Homo sapiens: one gene and its partners. The protein of the gene in region 4 interacts with the protein of the main gene of each other region in a pairwise test. Each region holds a gene or a part of one and is shown on either strand. Other genes may lie near its edges.

Region 1 (6,621 bases), on a different chromosome or scaffold from region 4:
CTTATGTTGAATCCTAATCCCCATGTGGGAGGTGATTAGACCATGAAGGCTCTGTCCTCATGAATGGGGTTGGTGCCCTTATAACAGAAACCCAAGAGAACTGTCTTGCTGCTTCTATTGCATGAGAAGGCACCACCTATGAAGGAGAGCAAGCCCTCACCAGACACTGAATCTGCTGGTACCTTGATCTGGGACTTCCTAGCTTCTGGAACCATTAGGAAATAAATTCCTGTTGTTTATAAGCCTCCCTGTTTATGGTAATTTGTTATAGCAGCCCAGCAGACTAAGAAAGGGGAAAGAGTCCTCTTTGTCATAGGAAAAAGTCCAAGAGAGACCAGATGCAAGCTTCCAGTTGTTCTCCTCAACTGGAGTTATACGAGCAGTGCCTAATTCTCCTTGCAAGGATGTGTGACAACACACTTAGGGTATTGCCACCCAAGAAGACTCACCTGAGCCTTGGTGTCCAGCATAGTTAGAGGACGTTGGTCATATAGTCATGGCTGACCATCTGGGTAGCTGAGCCTCCTTGCAGAGGTAGCTTGCAGAGGTCCAGCTAATGTTGAGTGGCCCAAGGTCCTCACCATAAATCACAGTTAGCACAGACAAGCTGGCATGGCTCAGGCAGGAAGCTGCAGGTGCTTGAGGAAGGACACTATCTATAGAAACCATGAGTAGCCTCCAAGGTGGGCTGAGGGGTAGGCAGGGCACCAACAGCCCCAGCTACACTCCCTCAGGGACAGTCTTGCCATTTCCCGTTTTTCATTCTTATAAACAATGCCCTGGTGCAGGGGTCAGCAAACTTTTCTATAAGGAGTCAGATAATCTTTTTTTTTTTTTTGTATTCCCTTTTGGCAATTTGTTTAATTGAGATAAAATTCACATAACTTAAAACTCACCCTTTTGGTGTATACGATTCAGTGCTTTTTAGTATATTTTCAAGATTGTGCAACCAACACCACTATCTAATTCCAGAACATTTTTATCACCCCAAAAAGGAGCCCTGTGCCAATTAGCTATCACACCCCATTCCCTCTTTCCTCTATCCTTGATAACCACTAATGGTAATTTCTGTCTCTAAAGATCTGCCTATTCTGGACATTTCATATAAATGGATCATAATATATGACCTTAAAAACTTGGTACATAGGCCAGCCATGGTGACTTATGCCTGTAATCCCAGCATTTTGGAAGGCCGAGGTGGGCAGATCACCTGAGGTCAGGAGTTCAAGACCAGCCTGCCCAATGTGGCAAAACCCTGTCTCTACTAAAAATACAAAAATTAGCCAGGCATGGTGGTGGGCACCTGTACCCAGCTACTTGGGAGTCTGAGGCAGGAGAATCACTTGAGCCCGGGAGGCAGAGGTTGCAGTGAGCCGAGATCACGCCACTGCATCCCAGCCTGGGTGACAACAGTGAAATTACAACTCAAAAAAAAAAAAAAAAAAGAAAAGAAAAAAAAAACTTGGACATAAATGTTTACAGTAGCATTATCCATAATAATAGTCAAAATGTGGAAACAACCCAAATGTCCATCATCTGATGAACAGATAAGCAAAACATGGCATATCCATACAATGGAACGTTAGCTGGCCATAAAAAGTAGCACTACAACATGGATGAACCAGACAGATAGCAGATATGTGAGGCTTTGAGAGCCACATGGCCTCCAAATTATTCAGCTGCTGTGGTCTGAATAGTTGTCCCCCACCCTGCCAAATTTGTATGTTGAATTCCTAACCCACAAAGTGATGGCATTAGGAGGCGGGACCTTTGGGAGATGATTAGGTCATGAAGGTTGGAGCCCTCATAATTGGGATTAGTGCCCTTATAGAAGATGCCCCAGAGAACTAGCCTGTCCCTTCCACCATGTGGGGACTCAGTGAGAAGATACCACCTATGAGGAAGCAGCTTCTCACCAGACACCGAATTTGCCAGTGGCTTGATCTTGAACTTCCCAGCCTCCAGAACTGTGAGCAATAAGTTTTTGTTGTTTATAAGCCACCCAGTTTATGGCATTTTGTTACAGCGGCCTGAATGGACTAAGACATCAACTCTGCCCTTTTTGCACAAAAGCAGCATTATGTAAACAAATGGGTTTGACTGTGTTCCAATAAAACTTTATTTACAAAAACAGGTAGTAGTCCATATTTGACTGGGAGGCTCTAGTTTGCCCATTCCTGCTATATAAAATATCCTTGTATGTGTATTTTTGTCCATTTGTGCAGAAAATTCTATGGGATCAATTCCTAGAAGTGAAATTGCTGAGTCATGAGTTATGACATATTTATTTTGAACAGATGCTGTGAACCACCCCAAAATTTGAACCAACTTGCTTTTCCACCAGCGGCACATGAGAGTACGTGAGACTGAGATTTCCCCCACCTTTTTTTTTTTTTGAGACAAGCAAGGTCACTTTGCTACCCAGGCTAGAGCCAGTGCAGTGGCACCATCACTGCAGCCTTGACTTCCCTGGACTCAGGTGATCCTCCCACCTCAGCCTCCTGAGTAGCTGGGACTACAGGCACACACCACTATGTCTGGCTGATTTTTTGTATTTTTTAGTAAAGGCAGGGTTTTTCCATGTTGCCCAGACTAGTCTCAGACTCCTGGGCTCAAGCGATCCACCTGCCTCAGCCTCCCAAAGTGCTGGGATTACAGATGCGAGCCACCGTGCCCAGTCAGAATTTCCTTTCTTAAAGCCCTTTCACAAAGAAGTAGAACCCATACCCATTTAGAAGGGAAGTTTCTGCATTGTCATTCTTGAGCTTTGGAGAGGAAGAAGAAGATAGAACATTTTGCCCCCAAAGAAGAAAACTAAATGGGGCCTGAAGTGGTCTCATAATAGTATCTTATTTTAGATTTGAGGCTCACAGGGAAGGGGACTCTGGTAACTTGTCCTCATTTGGTGAGATCAAACCTTACACTGCCCACTAAGTGTCATTCCTAAAAGCCTTGAGTGTTACCTGTTCAATTATTTTTTCAAATGCAGAGAGCTCCTTAGCAATTTCATTTATTAAGCAAAGCTTCCATTCCTATTATTTCTCTTTGTAAGTAATTTGCATGTAAATGAGGTCCACCTATGCATACTGAGCATGTTACCAAATGTACAAAAAATATACATGGTCCAATTTTTCTCCACAGAGCTGACAGGTACCCATCCCTCTTGCTGAAGATGACATAGTATTTCACGTAGCCTAGTTTTCCCTAAGTCTTTTTGGCTTTTGGACGATGGATGGAGTTTTTGTTTTTATTTTTCCATTTTTCTTTTTTCTCCCTCATTTTCATCATTTGGAATTCGTGGTGTGAAACCCACAGGGGAGAACAGAGGCTCATTAGCATTCAAGCTCTGTTTTTGGCAGCATATTTTAGTTGCTTTATATGATATTCAGCATCCCTCCTGGGATCTAGCCTGCCTTTGCTCGGCTCACGCTGGGTGAATCTGTGATATTTCCCATTCTGTAGCCCTTCATTTATAACACAGGCATAGCCTGCTTTCCCATTAGTGAGATGGCATGCCTGGACTACCCACACACAGATCAAGAATTAGGCGGAACTTGGCCGGGAAGATAAATCAAGTTAACCGTCTCATTAGGCTTGAAAGACACAAATTAAGCTGAAGTTGGGATTAACAGAGAAGCCTTTCAAAGAGACATGCAGCACAACAAGGGGTGGAAGAAGTTGCCGTAGCCATTACTCTCAGAAAATTTCCAGCATTTGATGGAACAGAGGAAACATGAAGTCTCTTTTATAAAAGGTCAACAGACAGAAATTTAGGCTCAAAATAGCAGTATAACATTTGTTGAGCTCTTACCACCTGCTTGGCACTGTGTGCTGAGAGCTTTACACACATTATTTCATAGAAATTGCACATTGACCTATGAGAGAAGCACTACTAAAATTCCTGTTTAACTAATAAAGAAACTGAGGCTCAGAGAGGTTACTTCGCCTGCCTCAGAGACACAGAGCTTGGTCAAATGATAGAGCCAGGATTCACTCCCAGGATATTTGGTCCCATGGCCCATGGCTTAACCTAGTGGTTCCCGTTTGGGATGCATTGGCCTCCGCAGGGGCCATTTGGCCATGTCCGAAGACATTTGGGGTTGTCACAGCTGTAGAGAGAGCTGCTACCAGCTTCTAGTACGTAGGTACCCGGGATGCTGCTAAACTTCCTACAGTCCACAGGACAGTTACGGCAAAGGATTATCCCGCCCATAATGTCAACAGTTCCATGATTGAGAAACCCTGGTTTAATCGCTCAACTGGACTACATTGACAGGCTCACTGTTCCACTAGAACTATCCACTTACAGAGCTCTATATGCAGTGTGGTGATGCCGTGGGACATACGTTTAAGGCTGCATATTGCAGGCGGTGCAGCTGTCTGGCAGAAGGAACAGCCAATGCCAAGGCTGAGAGGTAAGAATCTGGCTGGCATGGGATGGCAGGAAACCAGGTGCAGCTGTTGCAGAGACTCACAGGAGGATGAGATGAGGGAGTTGGACTTCTCACCAAGAAAAGGAAAAAGACAGCGTGCCCTAAACGATGACCCCCATGTTTGCAGTTGACAAATGTGTAGACTAATGGCCTCTTGTCTTCTCCCTGCCTTCCTGTTCTGTTCCCCTCCTTCCTCTTGCCTCCCTCCTGCCCTCAACCCTCTGGCTCCCTAGTTTTCGGCCACAACATGAAGAGCAGCAATGACTTCATCGGGAGGATCGTCATTGGCCAGTACTCTTCAGGCCCCTCTGAGACCAACCACTGGAGGCGCATGCTCAACACGCACCGCACAGCCGTGGAGCAGTGGCATAGCCTGAGGTCCCGAGCTGAGTGTGACCGCGTGTCTCCTGCCTCCCTGGAGGTGACCTGAGGGCTGCAGGGAAGGCAGCTTTCATTTGTTTAAAAAAAAAAAAAAAAGACGGAAAAAAATGTGTCACATACTATTACATCCACACCTGCATACACACTCGCAACATGTCTACACACGTCCACACACACAGACACACAGATACCCCAAATCCTCTCAGAACTGAGAGGAAGCTGACTATTGATCACAAAATGGCCGCCCTCAGTTGAGTGAGGCCTAGGAACTTTCCGGAAGCCCCATCCATAGATCACAAGCTCAGTGGGCTCTGCCGTGGGACTTATTGGCAGTGCCTGCTCTTGTCAATACTCCTGCCCCAAAATGCACTTTCAACCCTCAGGCCAGAGAAAGGACCTCCCAAAGGGTGCCAAGCTCCATCAAGACTAAATTTACCAAGAGTTTGGCCAGTGTGTGGGAGACTTGAACACCCCCCACTTCCGAAACACACACCTACTGGGTAACTTCTGAACAGGCTGCTGTTCCCTGGGGTTCTTCAAACCTGATACCTTTCTCCAAAGGTGTAAGTATCTTTGTCTTCTCCGTAGTAAATGTGATAACTAGATTATGGGCCATTTGGAGAAACCAAATGGCAACCAAAACTATTCCAGTGTCAGAAGCCTTTCCTGGCTTAACAGAATTGTTCTTGTGTTAGCTCATCCCAGGGAACGCCCTGTGGGTATGTATGTGTATGTCCTCGTGCATGTGCCCTCACAGGCGAACACGTGTGTGCCTATGTGTCCTCTTGGAGAGCATGGCGATGGGCCAGGACCTCAGCCCTGAGCACTGCCTTCTCTCTGCCTCTCCTGTCCAGTGAGAGTCCAACCAGTGTCCTCCTGTCTGTCAGAGATCCCACTTTGGATAAAAGTAGTGTGTGTGTGTGTGTGTGTGTGTGTGTGTGTGTGTAAAGTAAATAGGATATGATAGAGCAAAAGTAACATTTTTTGACCGAATCATGGTGATTGTGACCCACGAAAGACATACAAAGACTTGATATATGGATTAAAATGGCTATCACACCCCATCCATGATGATCTTCTTCCTTAATCATACTCTGAGGATCTTTCTGTGTTTTTCTGTGAACGAATGTCACGTCTCTCGTGCTAAGGAATTAGTGTAGTTAGAATAGATCTCTCTCTCTCTCTCTTTCTCTCTCTCTCTTTCCTCTCTCTCTGTTGGATGCTTCTGTATCTTTTTCCACAGCATAATGTCTGGTGTGATGGGGAGCTATTTATTGAAATTAAAGATTATTTATTTGTGCCATGCATTCGAGTTATCTTTTTCTTCATGAACACAGGACATAGAAGGTGGGAGGGCATTGCAGCTAGTACTGCTGTGTAACAAACCATACTGAACAAGTCAAAACAATGATTTTTTTTTTTTTGAGACAAAGTCTCACTCTGTTGTCCAGGCTGGAGGGTAGTGGTGCAGTCTCTGCTCACTGCAACCTCTGCCTCCTGCATTCAAGCAATTCTCCTGCCTCAGCCTCCCGAGTGGCTGGGATTACAGGTGTGCACCACCACCCCTGGCTAATTTTTGTATTTTTAGTAGAGACAGAGTTTCACCATGTTGGCCAGGCTGGAATTGAACTCCTGGCCTCAAGTGATCCACCTGCCTCAGCCTCAGCCTCCCAAAGTGCTGGAATTACAGGCATGAGCCACTGCACCCAGCTTCAAAACAATGATATTTATTATACTGATAGATTTTGGGGGTCAAGAATGTTGAGTATTTGCAATATGTCTGTCTGACTTGAGCAGTGTACTAATG
Region 2 (7,490 bases), on a different chromosome or scaffold from region 4:
TGGCCAGGATGGTCTCGAACTCCTGACCTCGTGATCCGCCTGCCTTGGCCTCCTGAAGTGCTGGGATTCCATGCGTGAGCTACTGCAACTGGCCTAAAACAATTTTTTTAAAGGAACAACCTGTTTATCGGTCTGCCTCTCCCAAGCACTGTTGCTTTCCACAGCAGAGACTTAGTCACCTTTCTATCTGTGTGCTTAGCACAGTGCACACTATTTTTCCCTTAATGCATTTTTCACAATTCTGCTTATATAGTTCTTTGTATAAAATCTATCTTTCCTACTAGACTGTAAGCTCTGTGACAGCTATGAAATAACCAACTCTTTCTCTGCTGGTAAATGGAAACTAGAAAATGGAAACTAGTACAACCAAATATTTCCATGAGCTTTAAATATTTATCAATAGCCTTAAAATTGTCCACAGCCTTTCAATCAATGATTATAAATCCAGAAATCTACCCTAAGAAAAGTGATCCTCAGCCGGGTGCAGTGGCTCATGCTTGTAATCCCAGCACTTTGGGAGGCCAATGTGAGAGGATTGCTTGAGCCCAGGAGTTCAAGACCAGCCTTGGCAACGTAGCGAGACCCCATCTCTATTTTTTTATTATAAATAAATAAAAGTAATCCTAAAAAACAAACAATGCAAAAAGATGCTGACACTAATTAGTAATGTCCAATAACAGGGAATTTGTTAATAATACATTCAATGGAATATTATGCAATCATTTAAAATTATGCTTAAGACATGGAAAAATGCTTATTAGGTGACTGAAAAGTAGGATCAGAAATAAACAGATATGCGGCCAGGTGTGGTGGCTCACACCTGTAAACCCAGCACTTTGGGAGGCCGAGGTGGGCAGATCACGAGGTCAGGAGATCAAGACCATCCTGGCCAACATGGTGAAACCCTGTCTCTACAAAAAATACAAAAATTAGCTGGATGTGGTGGCATGTGCCTGTAATCCCAGCTACTCAGGAGGCTGAGTCAGGAGAATCGCTTGAACGAGGGAGTCAGAGGTTGCAGTGAACTGAGATCACGCTACTGCACTCCAGGCTGGTGACAGAGTGAGACTCTGCCTCAAAAAAAAAAAAAAGAAAGAAAGAAGTAGATATGCAAAAATATATACAACTTTTGCCTTTTATTTTTGCTAATCAATGCTTTGAATAAAGATGGGAACTTTGGTTTTTTATTTTTTGGTTCATAATCCTACAGATTTTTTTTCTTTCCAGTAAATCTATACTAAACCCCTTTAGGTTAATGCAAATCCACACACTGCAGAATTAGTATCTTTCAGAATATTCCCTCTGCTGAGGCAAGAAACACAGTATTTGAAATGTCTATATAAACTAGAAGTGTAAGAAAAAAAGCATGACAAGATTGATGGAACTAGAATACTGAGAAAAAAAGAGAAAGTTTGGCGAATGTAAGAGGTGTTTTACTAGTCATTCATTCTACAAATAAGTATTGAGCTCCAGCTAAATGCACTCTCTTAAGTTAGTACTGGTTCCCTCTTATTACCTGACTAATGAATTACTCATGGGTGTCAGCCTCTAAATGCCATGTTCCCCACTTACCCACAAACTGAATAAGATGTCCCTCCCATGTGTTCCTATGGTACCCCGTATTCCTTCTTGTAACTGGAGGTGAATAATGTAAGACCCTAGGTTAAAATTTTAATCGACTCTTTACAAACAGCAGTCATTTTAAACCTTTATGTAGCCAGGGGAAGAGCCACTAAGAGGTACAGGTCTCAGCAATAGGCTACAAGTACCTTATTCTTAAAGGGAAATTATTTGAAATTGGAGATAAAGAAATGGAACACTGCTGGATGCAGTGGCTCACGCCTGTAAGCCCAGCACTCTGGGAGGCTGAGATGGGAGGATCACTTGAGCCCAGAAGTTTGAGACCAGGGCAACATGGTGAAATCACATCTCTACAAAAAAAATACCAAAAAATTAGCTGGGTGTGGTGGCTTGTGCCTGTAGTGCCAGCTACTCAGGAGGCTGAGGTGGGAGGATCGCTTGAGCCCGGGAGATTGAGGCTGCTGTGAGCCAAGATCTTACTTACCACTGTACTCTAGCCTGGGTGACAGAGGGAGACCCTGACTCAAAAACAAAAAGCAAAACAAAACAAACAAATATTTTTAAGGGGAATTCTACCCAGTGAAATTTGTACGTGATGAGCCTTCATTCTTTAGTTCTCTACTAAAGCATTTCTCAAATTCAAGCTCTTGAAATTTCAAGAATATGTATCAGCAAGCATCACTTTGTAGAAGCCCAACTATACGCGCTGGAATCCTGTGCCTCTATTTGGTTATAAGGTGACTGTCCACGGAGGGGCAGTAAAGTGTAATAGTTTAAAATTCAGGTCTTAACTATAATCCCACTGCCTATTTTTTTATTTCTAAAAATATCATAAAAAGACACAAAATTTTAAAATTGTGTAGAGAAATTGTGGACTTCCTGAAGGATTTGAAAAATTAGGCAAGCTATATTATCCAGTTAATAATTGACACAAAAGCTCTGGTTTGCCATGTTCTATATTGTGGATAGGAAAGTACCATTTTGCCATGCAGGATATATTTTTTTAAATATAAGCATACTTAACAATCTTTCATGGCTTCTGAGTTTTGTAGCATACTTAAAAAGATGTTTCTTATTACAAAGTAATTTTAAATATCCCATATTTTCTTCTAGTACTTTTATTATTTTATTGTTCAGATTTAATTTTTTGATCTGTCTGGAATTTATTTTGGTATAATGTGTAAAGTGTGGTTCCAATTTTATTTTTCTTCCAGATGGTTACCTAGTTGTTCTAACACTATTCACTGAATTCATCATTTCTCCACTGATGTGAAATGCCACCTTCATGATATTCAGAGTTTTTGTATGATACGAAAGACAATTTTTTTGGTTCCGATTTTAGTGGAAAGTCTTCATGTGCACTTTTTAACTGTCCTAGAGTTTGTTGTTGTTTTAAATATCTTAAAAGTTGTCTCTAACCATCGATATGATACCCAGATAAGATTTTTCTCCTCCCTTCATGAATTTGTCATTACCCAGCTCATTTTAGTTTTTTTAAGTGTACTGCACACAACCTTCAAATATTATGAACATTTCTCTCTCCCAGCTGTCACTACACCAAACTACATATGTTATATTTCCCTAAATCATCTTGCTGTGCTCTTTGCAGCTCTTCTGTAGACTGTTGATGTCTTCACCTAACGAGTTGCTCAAAAGTTCCCATAATTATTTAGGTGAGGCCTCAGAGCGAAAGCCTTTCACCACTATCCAGTTCCTCCCCCAAATGGGCATTCATCTCCATATAACAAGGACGACTGTGTTTGGGGGAAAATAACAGATTTGGAAGCACAATGGCAGTTATTTGTTGGCTCTTAAAACAATCCACCTGTTGGGGGGGTGCGTCCTACACAAAATGCCAACTGCTATTGTGGGAATGTTTTGCTATTTATTCCACCAAAATGATTCAGACAGAAAAAACAAAAAGGATCGCCCTGTACTAGGTCTTGAACCCAAAGAACTGTTTGCACAGAGATTCATCCAAGATACATCACAGCCTCCACCTCGGCAGCTGCTCTCTCAAATGTTTCCTGACTCTCCCCAAGTCAGTCTCCGCGTGAGGGGAGGAGGAGGATGCTGCCAGCGATGGCGCTGCTGGCACGAAGGCTGGCCTGCGACTTCTATTTAAAAGCTGAACCAAAATATACTTGGCGTCTGTGGTCTATTTAAAACTTCAAGTTAAGACAGAGAAAAAATTACTCTCCATCCTGAATGGGCCTCGGGTGTCTCAATCACAGACAAGAGTGGCAAATGGTGAGAGTCAGAAAGTGGGAAATTAGGAACGCTGAGGGAGCACGGCCAAACTCTGAAGCCAGCATGAAAACCTGGAGGTGAAAAGAGAAGCCATGGGCAGCGGGGGCGGGGGGAAACGGGCCCGGATTCGACCTTCTAAGCCAAGGCTCCATCTGCAACCCTCGCGACCAAGACCTATCGCCAAAGTCAGCCACCTCTGCTCATCGCCCCTCCCCCGACTCAAGGCTACCTCCTCAGAACCCCGCCTCAGGGTCTTCTCCCGGACTTTAGCGAGGTGCTCAGCTCGAGGGACGCCCCAGCTCAACGGTCTCCCTTCAAGGCCCCGCTCCTCAGCGCGCTCCTTCCACAGCGCCCCTCCCTCCCTCCCTCCGTCATCCCAGCTCGCCACCCGCTGGGGCTCCTCTTCGTTTTCCGCGCCTCAGCCCTCGCCCCGCCCCCTCGCCCTGAGCCCCCTCCAGGCCACGCCCTCTGGTCCCCCCACCTGTGAGCCCGCTCGTTCCCCGCCCTTCGGTCTTCGCCCCGCCCCCATTGCTCCCCGCCCCTCGTCGCCCTCTGTAGGCCTGCTCCCTCCCCGCCCTTCCACCCTCACCCTGCGCCCCGCCCCGGCCCCTTGGTCCTCGCCCCGCCCTCCTCGTTTGGCGCCAAACCCTGTGGTCAACGGCGCGCGGGTCTCCAGGCTCCGTGTTCTAGGCCCGAGTTAGAATCCTGTCAGCTGAGGAGGTCGGGCGGGGCAGAGGGGCTTCACCTTGAAAATCTCGGGGAGACTGTGGGTACGAGGGGGGTAAGTGGCAAAAACGAACAGCGTGCGAAGACTCTGAGGGGACGCTCGTTTTGAGAAGGCGCGCTTCCCTTTCTCGCTCCTTTTTTGGGGTCCCTGGGCTAGTGACTTTGAGCGTTCCGCTCCGACCTTTGGGGAGGAATTTTAGTGATCTTGAGGGATTTCCAACCTCATTTTCAATCGAATCGGACCTGAGTCTAGGAGAGCCCGCCTCATCCTCCTGACCAGGGAATCCGGTGTCAGGAAAATGTCCGGCGGCCGCAGGGGGTCTGCCCAGGCCTCCTGCTGAGGGAGGCGTCGAGGGCGACCCGACCGCGCTGCTGCCCCCACCAGAGGGGACAGCTGGGTCGTCTTAAACCGGGGGATTGGGGAGCCCTACTTTCAATCCAACGGTTCAGTCTATCAACGGCTCCTTGAGAGATGGGGGACAATCTTTTCATTTCATCACGGGGAGAAGAAATGAATGCTGTTTTTCTCTTCGATGGGGACAGTAAATGTGGAATTGGGGTACTCATAGCTAGCCATCTGAAGGACAGTGTCCCCGAAGATCCCATCCGAACGGTCTCGGTTGCCTTCCATCCTTTGCCGTTTGAGGTGCTGGGTGGTAGGACCCTGCTCCTGCCTTAGTATTAATGGTTCGTTCCCTTTGTTCTAGGGTCCAACCCCTGACTTTGGTATCAAATGAGGAAATGGAATCGACCAAGAAAAATGATGATTTGGACCGCATTTTATTGTAATAAATAAACACAATCACGCCTTGTGGATTCCTGAGATTTCTTTTTGAGTCTACAATGTTAAAAACTTTAACTGCTTATCAGCCTTAATATAATATTATGATCCACCAATTTTTTTTTTTTTTTTTGAGACTGAGTCTCGCACTGTCGCCCAGGCTGGAGTGCAGTGGCATGATCTCGGCTCAGTGCAACCTCCGCCTCCCAGGTTCAAGCGATTCTCCTGCCTCAGCCTCCCAAGTAGGTGGGATTACGGGCGCCCACCACCACGCCCGGCTAATTTTTTTGTATTTTTAGTAGAGACGGGGATTGGCCAGGCTGGTCTCGAACTCCTGACCTCGTGATCTGCCTGTCTCGGCCTCCCAAAGTGCTGGGATTACAGGCATGAGCCTCCACACCCGGACCACCATATTTTTAAATCTTAAAAAAATCATGAAACTAGTAAATACTGTGAAAGAAAGTATAGCTAATGTTCTATGAAACAAAAAGGTGGATGTTACAGGAGTACCCATTCATAATCAGCAGGCAGGAAGGCATTCATCATAGATGAGAAAAATAGAATCCATTTATTGAGGACAAAGTTGGAGGTGTCAGGGAGGACACAAGGAAGAATGATATAATGTCAAGGTTCCTAGAGTATTGTTGTTAAACATAAACAAGAAAGGTTAAAAGCAATATGCAATTCTAAATAACATTCAAGGCAGTAATAAAGTCATGATTAGCTGTGCAATGGAAACCAGATGATAAGTGATCACTGTTGGGGAAAGAGAAGAAACTAAATAAGCACCCCCCAATTTGCCCCTCAGGCATCTGTGTGCATGTGGGGACACACACACACATGCACACACACACACACACACACAAGAAATAATGTCACATGTCTCGCAGAAAGAAGATAGGCTGGCCTCATCTTTCCAAGCTAAATGCTTCTCTTACTGTCCTTCTAGTCCTTGTTGACTTTGAAATGAAATCAGAGGCCCCTGGACAAAGGACTACTTCTTACATAATATTTCTTATTTTCCCAGAAGTGATTATTTTTCTGTTGCCCACTTTTCAATATGAAGGAGGATCAAGTTGTGGCGGAAGAACCAGGATTCCAAGATGAAGAGGTATGACTAAAATGTTGAAAGATATATAGACATTCGATCATTCCGCAAAAATCAAGTTCCTTCCCTGTTAGCTACTATTTTTAGAAGCTGAAAGTAGAAATAACACATAGTTATATATTGCAAATATGTAACAACTTGTTTGGCAAGGATGCTAAGATTAGCTACTTAGCAACTGGTATGAAAGTATTTTAATGACTTAACAGCTGGTATGGCCATACTGGTACCTACACACACGGGTACCGAATAGCAGCCTGGTCCTAGAGGAAGGAGTTTAGGATCTGGAGGGGAAGAGGGTTGAGAAAACATATTTAAAATAGTTCAAATGTTGTTCCAGTCCTTTGGGTAAAGGTTTTAAAATTTTAGGGAGGACATGACAAAGGTAACTGGCTTCCCAGCCCTTTCAATGTTGGTGCTTCTTCTGTGTTTGAAAAACGGTATTGATCCTTCCTCAATCTCTAGAGAAGCGGAATTTGAGGCATTTTGGAGTGACTCATAGTATTGAATTACCTCTTTAAAAGATGTGAAATAGCTGGATATGAAGAATCAAAACTTCATTTTTTCTGTTTCATCTCCTTTAGGAATCTTTGTTTCAAGATATTGACCTGTTACAGAAACATGGAATTGTAAGTAGTTTTTCAATGCTGTGTTAAATTGTCTGATTCAGGATTTCTCAGCATCAACCTTATGGACATTTGGGCCTGGATAATTCTTTGTTGCAAGGGGACGTCCTGTGCATTGTAGGGTGTTTGCAACATCCTTGGCCTCTACTCACTCACTGCATGTCAGTAGCACCCCTGCAGCTGTGACAATCAAAATGTCTCCAGACATTGTCAAGTGTATCCAGAGGACAAAATTAAGTTCTATATGTCAGGCGACTGGAATAAATGATGTTGGCAGAAATCCAGCCTTTGAATAATGACCTGGGTGGATTTCAACAGCAATCAGTTGATAGTAAAACTGTGCTGACATTATCTGTTGTAGCCCTAACATTTAATCTCTTTCAGTGGTTTTAGAAAATAGAAGCAAGAGAAAATCCTGGTC
Region 3 (7,028 bases), on a different chromosome or scaffold from region 4:
CAACCAGACATTGGCATTTCTTGACCTTTTTTCCTGTCTTACCTGGATCTTGCAATAAAGGATGCCTGGTTTAACTTTCTTGAAAATCACATTAGGGAAGGCTTTGAATGAAATTGATCTGGAACAATAAGTGATGATTTGGAAAAACAATTGCTATACTTCTATGTACCCTGCTGCAGCTCTCCCCATGTCTCCACCTCTAGAGGTGGGGTTCAGGGATTTGCATAACTAAAAAATTTATGAAAGTGTTGTCCTACCTTTCTCAGGAACACCATTTGTGAATTATTTTCCCAAAAACGAGGTAGAAATTAGAAATCTAGAGAAGTAACTATTAGTACATGAGGTCATATTAGTGTTTTCTTGTTGGGTTTTTTTTTGTTTATTTGGTTTTTTATCTTATGGTTTTTTATTTATTTGATTTCTTTCTTTACGAGACCTCTTGTGGCGGTGGGGGGCGGGGAATGTTCATTTTTTTTTAAACCTATTTGACCAGCATTGTTTCCTTGAAGAAAACCTAGATTTCAGATACAGATGTTTATGTTTTGATTTATCTTAATTGCTCTGGTTTGGTTTTTGGGTTTGGTCAGCACTAACGTACTAATGTGGTTAAAATGAGTCCTTTGTTTTGGGAGGCCAAGGCGGGTGGATCACTTCAGGTCAGGAGTTCAAGACCAGCCTGGTCAACATGGCGAAACTCTGTCTCTACTAAAAATACAAAAATTAGCTGGGACTGGTGGCAGAGGCTTGTAATCCCAGCTACTCAGGAGGCTGAGGCAAGAGAATCACTTGAACCCCGGAGGCAAAGGTTACTGTGAGCCGAGATCAGGCCTTTGCACTCCAGCCTGGGCAACAAGTGAAACTCCGTCTCAAAAACAAAACAAAACAAAAATGAGTCCTTGGTAACTAGAATATTCGGTTCCCAGGGTTACAGTATCTAGATAGTAAATAATTCAGGGAAGTTAGTGGTAAGAGATTTCTTGATCATTTCTACTGAGAATTTTATTTAACAAGCATTCCTTATGAAAAATAATATCTATGAAAAATTTCCTTCATGAGGAACGAAAACTTTCATTTAATGAATGACAAGGGTATAGTTTTAAAATAAAGGGCAAAAATCAAAGGTTGGTAAACGTGTGATCTCAGCTCTGGAAACCCCATTATGCTTATGTCAACGGTGATGTCTGAGTGTTGAGGTTTGGGAAAGGTGAGTTTCCTTGACTTTTCAAAAAATTTTAGATTTTCGTATGGTCCACCATAGACAAATGAGTTTAATCAAAAGTCATAGCTTTTTTTTTTTTTTTTTTTTTTGCGACAGAGTCTCCGTCTATTGCCCAGGATGGAGTGCAGTGGCACAATTTTGGCTCACTGCAACCTCCGCCTCCTGAGTTCAAGCTATTCTCCTGCCTCAGCCTCCTGAGTGGCTGGGACTACAGGCATATGCCACCACGCCCAGCTAGTTTCTGTATTTTTAGTAGAGACAGCATTTCACCATATTGGCCAGGCTGGTCTCGAACTCCTGACCTAGTGATCCGCCCACCTCGGCCTCCCAAAGTGCTGAGATTACAGGTGTGAGCCACCATGCCCAGCCAACTTTTATCTTTAAGTAACTTGTGATGTTTCAATTGCAAAATCCTATGCCTTTGTGACTTCAAGTGACCCCTTTCATAATCCATAAGTGTTTAATGAATGTCTACCATATACCTAGCCTTGACATGGAAACATTTTTAATACAAATGTCTATTTTTATTTTCCTTTTGTTTGGTGTAGAGAAAAAATAGCCAGTTCACAATATTTTATAAAATAGTTATGAAGAGAATGTCAGTATACTCTACACATATCTTGTTTCATCTTATCAAGTAACACTACCAACAATGTATAGAATTTCTTCAAACTGAGTTTTATTTGGCTTGTTTGGGGATTTTTTTTTTTTTTTTTTTTTTTTTTTGGCTAAAAAGTAGGTCCTGAAAGGAGGACCTCCAGAATGTGCTTTGTGTCATTGTGTCGAGTCTTTCTTTTGAAGGTTTAATATTTAACTATTTATTTAATATAAGCTTTTCTTTTGCTGTTAGACTGCTTTTCAGGAAGCCTTGGACGCTGCAGGTGATAAACTTGTAGTAGTTGACTTCTCAGCCACGTGGTGTGGGCCTTGCAAAATGATCAAGCCTTTCTTTCATGTGAGTATTAAACAATGTCTGCTTTGTAAGAGATTTGTGTTTTTTGAGTTGGTGGTCACAGTGGTAGGAAAGAAAGACAGTTAAAGGATTTTGGTTTCGGTGGGGGGATTTCTTTGGCTGGATCTTTGGTCTAAAAGTAGTAGTATAACAAATAATTTAGGTTTGATACATGTAGCCCATTGAAAACAAATTTTAGAAGTTAATTTTGTCTTAAATAGTTCTTTTTTTCCCCACATTGAAACATGGGCCTTATTTGAAATCCCAGCCTCAGAATTTGATATGCCAAGCTGTTTTATACTAAGAAAAATTTGATTTAGAGAAAATTTATGTCTCTTAGATCTATGTCTCCAAAGATCTAAATTTTTGGATCTTTAATTAGTCTCTACTTTTATTAAGTTTCCATTTAAGAAGCTTGGGTATGTTGATTGCCATTACCTAGTTCTAAATCTTTTTGGATTTTTCATTTTAAATTTTCCAGTCCCTCTCTGAAAAGTATTCCAACGTGATATTCCTTGAAGTAGATGTGGATGACTGTCAGGTATGTAGCTGGAAATATGAGATACTGCTGAGCTTTTCACATTGGCCTTTTTCTCTGAATTGCACAGTGCTTTTTTCCATAAATATGTCAAATAATTCTAGAACTGTAATCCTATCTAAAAAGTTCTATCTCAGAAGAGCAGGCAAGTTAGGAGCTTAATCCTAGCTATCGGGAGCTGTATATCACATCCTAAAGTAAACAAAAATAAATGAGTGAGACTTCTGAATCTTATCGGCCACCCACCTTTCTAAAACCCTACATTCTACTTTACACTCTGAGATGTGCAATAAATGGAGATTGAATTTAGCTATGATCATTACATCCATAGGCTTGATGGAGTCACCAAATTATGAGACCGCTTGTAGGGCTCTTTGTGAACTTGCAGTAGCATGAGAACCTGCATTTGCAAGCCTATTCTAGTCTTGGTTGATTTTAGTCAATTAGAAACCACAAATGTTTTAACAAATAAACACCAAGGTACCTGAGAGAATAATTTGGAAGAAATTCCAGGGTTGGTTGTATTTAACAAATACTTGTTTTGCACTAGGTATATACCAGGCACTGTTCTGGGTGGTTTTTAAGTATCAGTTCATTTAATCCTGAGTGCTGTTATCATCCCCATTTTATAGATGAGAAAACTGAAACACAGAGGTTGTTCATGAAGTTTCAGTGAGTATGTGGCTGAACTAGGATTTAAAATGAAGTGGTCTGGCTTCCCAGCCCTTGACCTTAAGCACTACCCATCGGAGGATGCTCTGTCTTGTGGGTGTAGATCGGGTGCTTAGCACATGACCACAGACCTAGGAGAGCGGGTTGAGGAGGTATCACTTCGGGGCCCTTTACAGATATGTGAGCATTTTCACTTAGCCCTAGTGGAGAAGGAAAGGCGATGGGGGAAGGGTGCAGTGTGGCAACAGAGGCGCTGGACCTGGCTTCCAGTCCTGGCTCACTAGCATCTGCTTAGGCCAGTCACTCCTCTTCCTTGAGCCTTAAGACCTGCCCCATCAACCTCCCAAGGTTGCTTATTCATTGAGCAAACATGGAATATCCAATAAAGGGTGAAGGGTCACTTAAAACAGGCATATGGCAGTGCTCTCTAAACATGGGAGGGCGCAACAACCCCAGATTGTGTATTCTTAGCCAGTTTTTGACTCTGTGCCTTGGGCAACCCCTGCCTTGGCTTGTGCTGTCTTCTCCATCTGGCCTGTCCTTTCCTTTCCTACCTGACTAACTCCTTGTCATGAGCTTCACCCCTTCTCCACTTACCGCCTTGTGTGCCCTAAGTACCCAGTGAATCTTGGCAATTATTATAATGATCTTTATGTCTGTCCTTTACCATTAGTCTCAGTAGATTCCTAGGATCAGAGACCCTGTCTTAATTCACGTTGGTTGCCCCTTCACCTAGCACACCTGCCTTGCATGTAGTATAGGTGTGGAATGAATGAATGATGAATGTGATATGGTTGTTAAGTTACTATTCTAGATGTGTCCCAGAGTTGTTTTTTTTTTTTTAAAAAGAGTGTAATTGCATTTTTGTGAAAAATCCTTATCCCTTGTTTTAATCAAACTTAGTCTTATTAAGGTCAATTTAGCTAGGGGAAAATTGCACCTGGAATAGAGAAATTCTAACTGCCACTGATCCTATCAGATAGCAACTTGATTTTTTTTTTTTTTTTTTTTTTTTTTTTTTTTTTGAGATGGAGTTCACTCTGTCACCTGGGGTGGAGTGCAGTGGCATGATCTCGGCTCACTGCAACCTCTGCCTCCCGGGTTTAAGCAATCCTCTGTCTCAGCCTCCTGGGTAGCTGGGATTACAGGCATGCACCACCATGCCTGGCTAATTTTGTATTTTTACAAAATTAAAACCCCAGTAGAGACGGGGTTTCACCATGTTGGTCAGGCTGGTCTCGAACTCCTGACTTCAGGTGATCCACCCACCTCGGCCTCCCAAAGTGCTGGGATTATCCACCACGCCCGGCCTTGATTTTTATTTGAAAGCAATAATAGGTGCCAGATGCCATGATAAGCCCTTTGCATGCACTATGTCATTTAATCCTCACGATAACTATACGAGTATTTTTTATTAGCACCCTCATTGAACAGGTAATGGCACTGCAGCACAGAAGGTAAAGTCAGTCTCTTGAGGCAGACCAATGCACCATACTGTACTGAGGACAGGTCTTCTTACTGCCTTTAGGAAGTACAGTCATGCATCACTTAATGATGAGGATACTTTCTGAGAAATGTTAGGCAATTTTGTTGTGCACACATAGAGTGTACTTACACAACCTAGATGGCATAGCCTCCTGTACACCTAGGCTATGTGGTAAAGCCTGTTGCTCCTAGGCCACAAACAGGTAAGGCATGTTACTGTACTGAATACTGTAGGCAGTTATAACACAACAGTAAGTATTTGTGTATCTAAACATAGAAAAGGTATGGTGAAAACATGATATGAAAGATTAAAAAATGGTATGCCTTTATAAGGTACTTGCCATAAACGGGACTTGCAGGACTGAGAGGTGCTCTGGGCGAGTCAGTGAGTGGGTGGTGAGTGAATGTGAAGGCCTAGAACCTGTAGACGTTATAAACACTGTATGCTTACAAATTTTATTTTTAAAATTTCTTTTTTCAGCAATAAATTTATTGTAACTTTTTTACTTTATAGTTTTTTTATTTTTTTAACTCTTTAACTCTTGTAATAACACTTAGCTTAAAACACGAATGCATTGTACAGCTCTACAAAAATATTTTCTTTATATCCTTAGTCTATAAGCTTTTTTTAAAAAGACTTTTTAAACTTTTTGTTACAAACTAAGATTCAAACACATACATTAGCCTAGACCAACACAGGGTCAGGATCATCAGTATCACTGTCTCCCATCCCCACATCTTGTCTCACAGAAAGGTCTTCAGGGACAGTAACATGCATGGACCTTTCATCTCCTATGATAACAGTGCCTTCTCCTGGAATGCTTCCTGAAGGGCCTGCCTGAGCCTGTTGTATAGTAACTGTCTTTTTAAAAAAATAAGTAGGAGTACACTCTAAATTAATAATGAAATTAAAGTAAATACAAAAACCAGTAACGTGGGTGTTTATTATCAAGTAGTATATACTGTCCATAATTGTAGTGATATGCTTTTTTAAGTGAAAGCAAGTTTATTAAGAAAGTAAAGGAACAAAAGAATGGCTATTCCGCAGGTAAAGCAGTCTGTAGTGGTATACTTTGTATGTAATTGCAGCGCAGATTTGTTTGCACCAGCTAATGCGATGGGCTATGACATTAACCCATCACTAGGTGAGAGGAATTTTTCAACTTCATTATAATCTTATGGGACCACCACATATATGCAATCTGTTGTCGATCTAAATGTTATATGGTGCATTACTATAGGTGTGCAAAGCACTCGAGGACTTCCGTATGACAGAGCTCCTCCTTCATGTCTGCTTGGTGCACCCTGATCACCCTGAATGTATCTTTTTTTTTTTTTTTTTTGAGACAGAGTCTCACTCTGTCACCCAGGCTGGAGTGCAGTGGTACCATCTCTGCTCACTGCAACCTCCACCTCCCGGGTTCAAGCGATTCTTCTGCCTCAGCCTCCTGAGTAGCTGGGACTACAGGCAGCCGCTACCACACCAGGCTAAATTTCAACTTTTTAGTAGAGACAGCATTTTGCCATGTTGGCCAGGCTGGTCTCGAACTCCTCACCTCAAGTGATCCACCCGTCTTGGCCTCCCAAAGTGCTGGGATTAGAGGCATGAGCTACCGTGCCTGGCCTGAAAGTGTCTTTTAAAACCTTGAAGTGACCCTCTGACAAACTGAGGAACTTTAACTTTGCCTCCATAGATTGATAGAAAAGTATGAGTAGTAGCCCTTTTGAAAATGATAGACCAACCTTATTTCTCTGACAGCCAACAGGGTTATGATACTTATTTTATAAATGGTAACCTCCCTCTGACCCTTACTTGGAGTGAGTTTTCAATAGTATGCATTCAATAAACATTCACCATTTTTATTCCAGCCATTACTGTCCTTGTGCCTCTTACTGGAACCTGTACTTTCATGCTCAGCAGGTGTCCAGCATTAAAAGAAAAAGTAAAGATTACCTAGAAAGAACTCCTCAACAGTAGTGCCACCCACCATCCTAGAGGTCGTCATAGTGTTTGTAGCTGGCCTTTCTTCCCCTTGAGAATTCTCCGTTGGTTTCCGTGATTTGGTTATCAACAGTCCTGCCTGCTCGCTTGCTGTCCTGTGTAGCTTTTGCTGCTTAGGTGCTGAGTGGTTCTATATTTCTTTCCCAGTCCTCTTTTGAGT
Region 4 (7,028 bases):
AAGGGCTTGGTGAGAAGCCTCTTTCATATTTGATATTTTCCCTGCAAATACTTTGAAACTTTAGGATGTCTTTCCAGTAAAGTTTTAACTGCTTTAGGGTTGGGGAGGGCATGATTCCATTTTTATATAATAATTTTAAAATAATGTTGCTGAAATTTGGCAGTTAAATTGCATTTGAAAAAGGAAACATTTTTTATTCTTATGGAGTAAGGAGAGCAGAAGTCTTCCTTACTGGACTGAGCTTCATGATTCCTCACTTTTGTGGCACAATGCCTGTCACCCAGGCACTTGGAAAATGCTTGTTGAATTGAAAGCTCAGGCCTCTCCAGAATACACTTGATTGATAAGTCAAGTAAATAGACATCAGGGTTTTAATGAATGTTTTTAGTGAATGTTTACTTATGCCTAGCACAATGAGGGAATGATGGATGGATTTTAGCTTTATTTTAGTAAGTCTTTAGTTTACTCATTTTGGGCTAAAGCTTTTATGATGATATCTGGATTAATGTGGTCAAATAAAGTATGAGCATTTGCAACCTGAATGATGGTTTACATGGCTAGATTTACCAAGCAGTAGACCATTCTGTGTATTATCTGAAAATGTATGAATCAGTCTTTCTTGTCCAAGTTTTTCAGAGATTTAAGAATCTTTTGGAAAATAATTCTGAAAATAATTTGATTTTGTATGTCCATGCCAAAGCCCTAGATTATGGGGACTGGTGATGTATATCTAAGGGATGTGTGTATGTTATGTAAGCATGAGAATGAATCTTTTTAAAAAGTCATTTCTTAGAAATTTTGCCTATAATAGTTTACTTTTAAATCTTAATCTCTCACCCCCCAAAACTCCCATTTTCCCACAATATTTTCTCTAGGAGCTTGTACCTCCAGGCCCATACATCCTTCCAAAGCTCCCAACTACCCTACAGAGGGAAACCACCGAGTAGAATTCAACGTTAACTACACCCAAGACCTGGACAAAGTCATGTCTGCAGTGAAAGGAATTGACGGTGTTTCTGTCACTTCTTTTTCTGCTAGGTACAATTTATTTTTCTCTTTTTTTTGTGTGTATTTATTGGTAAGCATCTTCCTTACAAAGTCTATAACCCTGGTATTTAGGCTTGAAACAAATAGTTTTCTCTGGAGTTGATTTACAAAGTAGCATACTCCTCATTTGTTTGTGGGTCCTGGAGAACTATGGAATTTTTTCAAAACAATAAAAACGGTAAGTAACACTAAGTATTTTCTATGTCAGGGGACTATACTATGCATTTTACCTACAGTATTTCTAATCCTGGTAATGTTCAAAGATAGTTGTTTTTACTTTAGAGAATACAGATAGATCCTAGTGATGTGGTGATAAGGCTTTTATTGGTTCCCAGCAAATCAGTGATTCCCAAGTGCTTTTTTATATTTATCTTTACATTTTAAATATATATTTTCATAAATCAGTCTTTTTATTTAACATCATGGGAAATATTTTTCTGAATAGTCTTTTTTTGTTTGTTTTAAGAGACTCCCAGGCTGGGCACGGTGGCTCACACCTGTAATCCCAGCACTTTGGGAGGCCAAGGCTGGTGGATCACCTGAGGTCAGGAGTTTGAGACCAGCCTGACTAACATGGAGAAACCTCGTCTCTACTAAAAATACAAAATTAGCTGGGCGTAGTGGCGCATGCCTGTAATCCCAGCTACTCAGGAGGCTGAGGCAGGAGAATCACTTGAACCCGAGAGGCGGAGGTTGCAGTGAGCCGAGATCGCGCCACTGCACTCCAGCCTGGGAGACAGAGAGAGACTCTGTCTCAAAAAAAAAAAAAAAAAATGCAGATTTTTGTATTCACCTCAGACCTTATAATTAGAATGGAGTTTGCCTGAGAATCTGTCCAGGACATTCTCAAATTCAATGATGTTTTAAAATTATCATCTCTAAGGCTTTAAAAAAATTCATTTTGCCCCAGCCCCATTTGTAGATGTTCTGTTCACTGGTTCTGTGGAAGGATCCAGCAGCTGTTATTTTAAGAAGCTAGAAGGAATTTTTTTTATTTTTTTGAGACAGAGTCTCACTCTGTTGCCCAGGTTGGAGTGCAGTGGTGTGATCTTGGCTCACTGTAACCTCCGCCTCCCAGGTCCAAGTGATTCTCCTGCCTCAGCCTCCCCAGTAGCTGGGACTACAGGCACCCGCCCCCCACCACGCCCGGCTAATTTTTTTTGTATTTTTGGTGGAGATGGGGTTTCATCATGTTGGACAGGCTGGTCTTGAACTCCTGATCTCAGGTAATCCACCTACCTTGGCCTCCCAAAATGCTGGGATTACAGGTGTGAGCCACTGTGCCTGGCCTTCTTTTTTTTTTTTTTTTTAACTTTAATTTTTTAATAATTAAAAAAATAATAAGATAGGGTCCTGCTATGTTGCCCAGGCTGGTGTTGAACTCCTGGGCTCAAGTGACCCGCCCACCTTGGCCTCCCAGAATGCTGAGATTACAGATGTGAGCCACTGCACCTGGCCAAGAAATTTCTGATGCACAATCGGGATTGAGAACAGTTCTTGAACAGTGGTTTCAAAGTGAGGTCCTTGGACCAGCAACATCAGCATCACCTGGAACTTGTTAGAAAGGTAACCTCTCAGACCCCCACCTAGATATAATGAATCAGAAACTCCAGGGGTGGGGCCCAGCACTCTGTGTTTTAATAATCCTCCAGGTGATTCTGATGCCCAGTAGAGTTAGAGAAATGCTATTCTAGAAAATGGATTAGTTTCAGATTAAATGGGTTCTGTTGGTTAAATCCTTGGTTCCACATAAATCTAATCTATTATAGTAGGTTTGTAAACTGTGGATTATCTAAAATACATTTTGGCTATATTTGTCCTAAATGGAGTGATTTTTCCCCCCTAGGACTGGTAATGAGGAACAAACACGGATTAATCTGAATTGTACTCAGAAGGCTTTGATGCAGGTGGTAGATTTTCTTTCCCGGAACAAACAACTTTATCAGAAGACGGAAATTCTGTCACTGGAGAAGGTAATAAGAATATTTTGTATTTGATCTTAAAATACTGTGCACACATTTTCTAACAGTATAATTGAGGTATAATTGATATACTTAGGTATATTGAGGTATACCTTATTGAGGTATAATTGATATACTAAGAATTGTACATATTTGATGTGTACAATTTGATGAATATCATTACTTTGCATTTTTCTTCAGCAAATTCATTTGTAAATTATTAGATCAACAGGCCATTCACTGTTATCTAAAGTACAAAATGGCAATGAGAGCATAATATTCTCTAGGAAGTAATTGAGAAAGGGAGACATTCCAGGAACAGGAAAATATTGGTACGTCTTCAGGGTTACAGATTTGGTTACAGGTTTGCTGTCTCCTTATTTTACACGCTCTGCCTGGACCATGTCATTCACTTCTTTAACTTGATAGCCATTTGTATGATGATTTCTATCTTTACTTTTTGGCTTAGAATGCTTTCTTAAGGGAAAAAATGACAAGAACCCATATTTTCATCTACTTTCTGGATGTTTTGCACTTACAGAGCCCACAAGTATTTCAAATTCAGTATATCCAAATACTTTATCCGTTTGCCACCCCCGCTTTTTTTTTTTTCCATATTTCATATTTCAGTATCATTATCTACTTTAGTTTCCAAGTTTTCACATTCCTCCTTGACTCCAGGCCCTGCTGAGTCTGGCCTCATATCTATACAGTGTTTCTCCTCTGTATTGGCTCTGCCACCACAGTAGTTGAAACTCTCATTTTCTGCGATGAGAGTAGTCTCACCGAGCACCTAGGAGGCAGTCCAGGCTCTTTAGCATGGTGTTGGAAGCCCTTAATGATCTGCTACAGCCTGGGCCTCCAGCCTCCTCTCCTTCCACAGCATGTACTCTGCACAGTAGCCATACTGTCTTCTTTTGGATCTGCCCCCATAGTGTGTTCTCTCAAGTTTTTGGCACCTTTGTCCATGTCCTCTGTGTTTAGAATGCCTTTCTCCATCTCATCGTACCTCTGTCCTGCCACACTGCACTTGACATCACCCCTTTTTAAACTCTTTATTTCCCCCTTTTTAACTCTTTTAGGGTTTTCTCTAAGACCTAAGTCCTTCCTCCAAGTACTCCCCAAGCCTCCTAAGTCACAGCTCATTTAGTTTGTCATTCTTTGTGCTGCTGCAACTGTAGCACCTACCTTGTATTTAAACAGTTTTATTATTTTGTTTATTTGAGACAGGGTCTGGCTCTGTCCCCAGGCTAGAGTGCAGTGGTACAATCTCAGCTCACCACAACCTCTGTCTCCTGGGTAGCTCAAGCCCACCTCCCATTCAGCCTCCCAAGTAGCTGGGACTGCAGGCGCACGCCACTGCCTGGCTAATTTTTGGATTTTTTTGTGGAGATGAGGTCTCACTATGTTGCCCAGGCTGGTCTCAAACTCCCGAGCTCAAACAATCCACCCACCACAGCCTCCCAAAGTGCTAGGATTATAGGCATGAGCCATCGCGCCTGGCCTGATTATTGATTTAAACATCTGCCTTCCTAGAAAACTGTGAACTCCTAGAAGAATGATTTTGTCAGGTTTGTATCCCCACATTTAGCCTGGAGCTTGCTATAGTAATCTCACAGTGTGCATGTTGATGATTTTAGCATTTGTTGTTTTAGGACTAACAATGCACACCGTTTCTAACTTCTGTTTCTCCTCAGCCTTTGCTTCTACATACTGGAATGGGACGGTTATGCACACTGGATGAATCTGTCTCCCTGGCAACCATGATTGATCGAATAAAAAGACACCTAAAACTATCTCATATTCGCTTAGCCCTTGGGGTGGGGAGAACCTTAGGTAAATATAGCTCCTTCATCTATCCAGTATGCCTACTGTTAACATTGGACAAAGATCGAAACTCTTGGTTGTATTAATATGTGATAGAGAATGTGTTAGCAGCTCATAGGAGATAATTGGTTTACGTTATTGATTAGGGTGGGCCAGGTTCTGATGTGGAATACATCTCATTGACTTAATCAATGAGATTTATTTCTCTGTCATGCTATGTGTTCATTTCAAGTTGGTCATTGTAGGAAGTCTGACCATTGTAGACTGGTTGCTGTTGCAGAGGGAGGGAGTTTTGCAGGGTCTTAAACCATCAGTTTAAAATTCCAGGAAACATGTTAATTTCTGCTCAACTCATTTTCCAGAATTAGTCATGTTGCCCAATACAAGCAAGGGAGGCATAAAGTGCAGTCTTACCATGTGTCAGGAAGAGAGCTGGAATCATGATTGCTACAATTACAACATAAACTTTGCACTTATAAGACTGGTAATATTTTCTAGTGAGGTGCTACTGAGTGATCTGATCCATTGTAGTTTCTAAGTCTTGTAGTTTTTTCTTCTGGCCTTTCCTGGTACTTTTGAGAACAAAAAGAGTGAACAGACATTTGTTCAACACCTTCAGTGAGCCTAGCACTGTACTGATTGTCTGTCCTAAGTACGTGAGCTCCTGCTGGCAAAAGCAGTGGGGTACAGCGGTTATAGGTGTGGATTCTGAGCTTAGACAACCTGGCTTCAGATTTGTCTGTCCTGTTTGCTGCATGTCTTTGACAAGTTTATGCCCTCTGTGTCACAGTAGCCTCATCTGTAAAAACTGCATTAATAAAACCTAACTCAGAAGGTGGTAGTATAATCCATGTGACATGGCACAGTGATTGGCTCACATTAAGTATAAAGTGCTAGCTGTTGTTAGTTTTGTGGTTGGTACTATTTCTCCCATTTTATAGGTGAACAATTGTGGTTCAGAGAGATAAGTAACTTTATTAGTTCGTTCTCACGCTGCTATGAAGAAATACCTGAGACTAGGTAATTTATAAAGAAAAGAGGTTTAATTGACTCACAGTTCTGCATGGCTGGGGAGGCCACAGGAAACTTACAATCATGTTGGAAGGCACCTCTTCTCAGGGTGGCAGGAGAGAGAATGAGTGCAAGCAAGAGAAATGCCAGATGCTTATGAAACCATCAGATCTCGTGAGACTCACGCATTATCACAAGAACAGCATGGGGGAACTGCCCCCATGATCCAATTACCTCCACCTGGTCCCGCCCTTGACCCGTGGGAATTATGGGGATTATATTCAAGGTGAGATTTGGATGGGGACACAGAGCCAAACCATATCAGTAACTTATCTAAAAGTCCAGTTAGATCAAACAACCCAAGGGAGTTAGTGTCCAAAGAAAATGGATAGCAGAGGTGGGATTTGACTTCCAAAATAACTCCAAAGCCCCCTCTTTGAGATACCCTGCTGCTGAACTGGAGTGTCCACTAAAGTGTTCATTTTAGAAACCCAAGTGCTAAATACTTGGATTTTGGCTCGAAAGTTGCTGTTATTTCACTTTCCAGAGGATGCTTTTTGAGAATAAATAGTATATTTAAAAATAGTGCCAAATCCATTTGTAGCATTCCTCTTTTTATAGTCCTTTTAGTTCCTTAGCTTCCTCACCTGAGAATAGAGATAGTACTTGCTTACCTCTCACTGTTGTCTGAAGACCCAGGTGAGATTATTTTACCTAGCACTGTTGCAATACAGCCTAGAGCTGCACCATTAGTACTATTCAGTGGTTTGTGAGTTTGTGCAGCCATGTCCAAAGGAATAACGGTGCCCCCTTCAGCAGCACATATACTAAAAATTGGATGATATAGATTAGCATGGCCCCTATGCAAAGATTACACGCAAATTTGTGCATTGTTCCGTATTTTGCGCAATTTACAAAGGTTGTTGAAAAAAAAAAACACAACAAAGGAATAATAACCATGCCTTGGGTTAGCTATGCAATATCAAAGAATGACCTGTTTGCTTATATTAAAACATGTTTTTTTTAAAATGCAGTAAGAACAATTCATATACTGGTGATGAGACCAGGAGTGAAATCTGTATTATGTTTAGGATTCTTGGTACAAATTATAATAGTAAAATGAAAGGGAATTGTAAAGTATTGGTCTCTTGTTTCCTCTGTTTTGAAGAGTCTCAAGTCAAA

What was found.
Region 1: the proteins of NIF3L1 (region 4) and SYT17 interact in binary tests that used the Homo sapiens proteins (3 or more experiments, as listed by UniProt).
Region 2: the proteins of NIF3L1 (region 4) and DMC1 interact in binary tests that used the Homo sapiens proteins (3 or more experiments, as listed by UniProt).
Region 3: the proteins of NIF3L1 (region 4) and TXN interact in binary tests that used the Homo sapiens proteins (3 or more experiments, as listed by UniProt).

Annotation. Positions count from the first base shown.
Region 1 is NC_000016.10:19,262,214-19,268,834, forward strand, and holds the end of SYT17 (synaptotagmin-17), read left to right. Parts: intron 1-4,666; coding exon 4,667-4,863; 3' UTR 4,864-6,119; downstream 6,120-6,621. UniProt on the Homo sapiens protein: Plays a role in dendrite formation by melanocytes.
Region 2 is NC_000022.11:38,567,165-38,574,654, reverse strand, and holds the start of DMC1 (meiotic recombination protein DMC1/LIM15 homolog), read left to right. Parts: upstream 1-4,471; 5' UTR 4,472-4,612; intron 4,613-5,264; exon of another isoform or gene 5,265-5,580; intron 5,581-6,245; exon of another isoform or gene 6,246-6,365; 5' UTR 6,366-6,398; coding exon 6,399-6,449; intron 6,450-7,027; coding exon 7,028-7,072; intron 7,073-7,490. UniProt on the Homo sapiens protein: Participates in meiotic recombination, specifically in homologous strand assimilation, which is required for the resolution of meiotic double-strand breaks.
Region 3 is NC_000009.12:110,246,504-110,253,531, reverse strand, and holds part of TXN (thioredoxin), read left to right. Parts: intron 1-2,069; coding exon 2,070-2,174; intron 2,175-2,652; coding exon 2,653-2,712; intron 2,713-7,028. UniProt on the Homo sapiens protein: Participates in various redox reactions through the reversible oxidation of its active center dithiol to a disulfide and catalyzes dithiol-disulfide exchange reactions.
Region 4 is NC_000002.12:200,892,371-200,899,398, forward strand, and holds part of NIF3L1 (NIF3-like protein 1), read left to right. Parts: coding exon 1-9; intron 10-875; coding exon 876-1,038; intron 1,039-2,893; coding exon 2,894-3,020; intron 3,021-4,705; coding exon 4,706-4,844; intron 4,845-7,014; coding exon 7,015-7,028. UniProt on the Homo sapiens protein: May function as a transcriptional corepressor through its interaction with COPS2, negatively regulating the expression of genes involved in neuronal differentiation.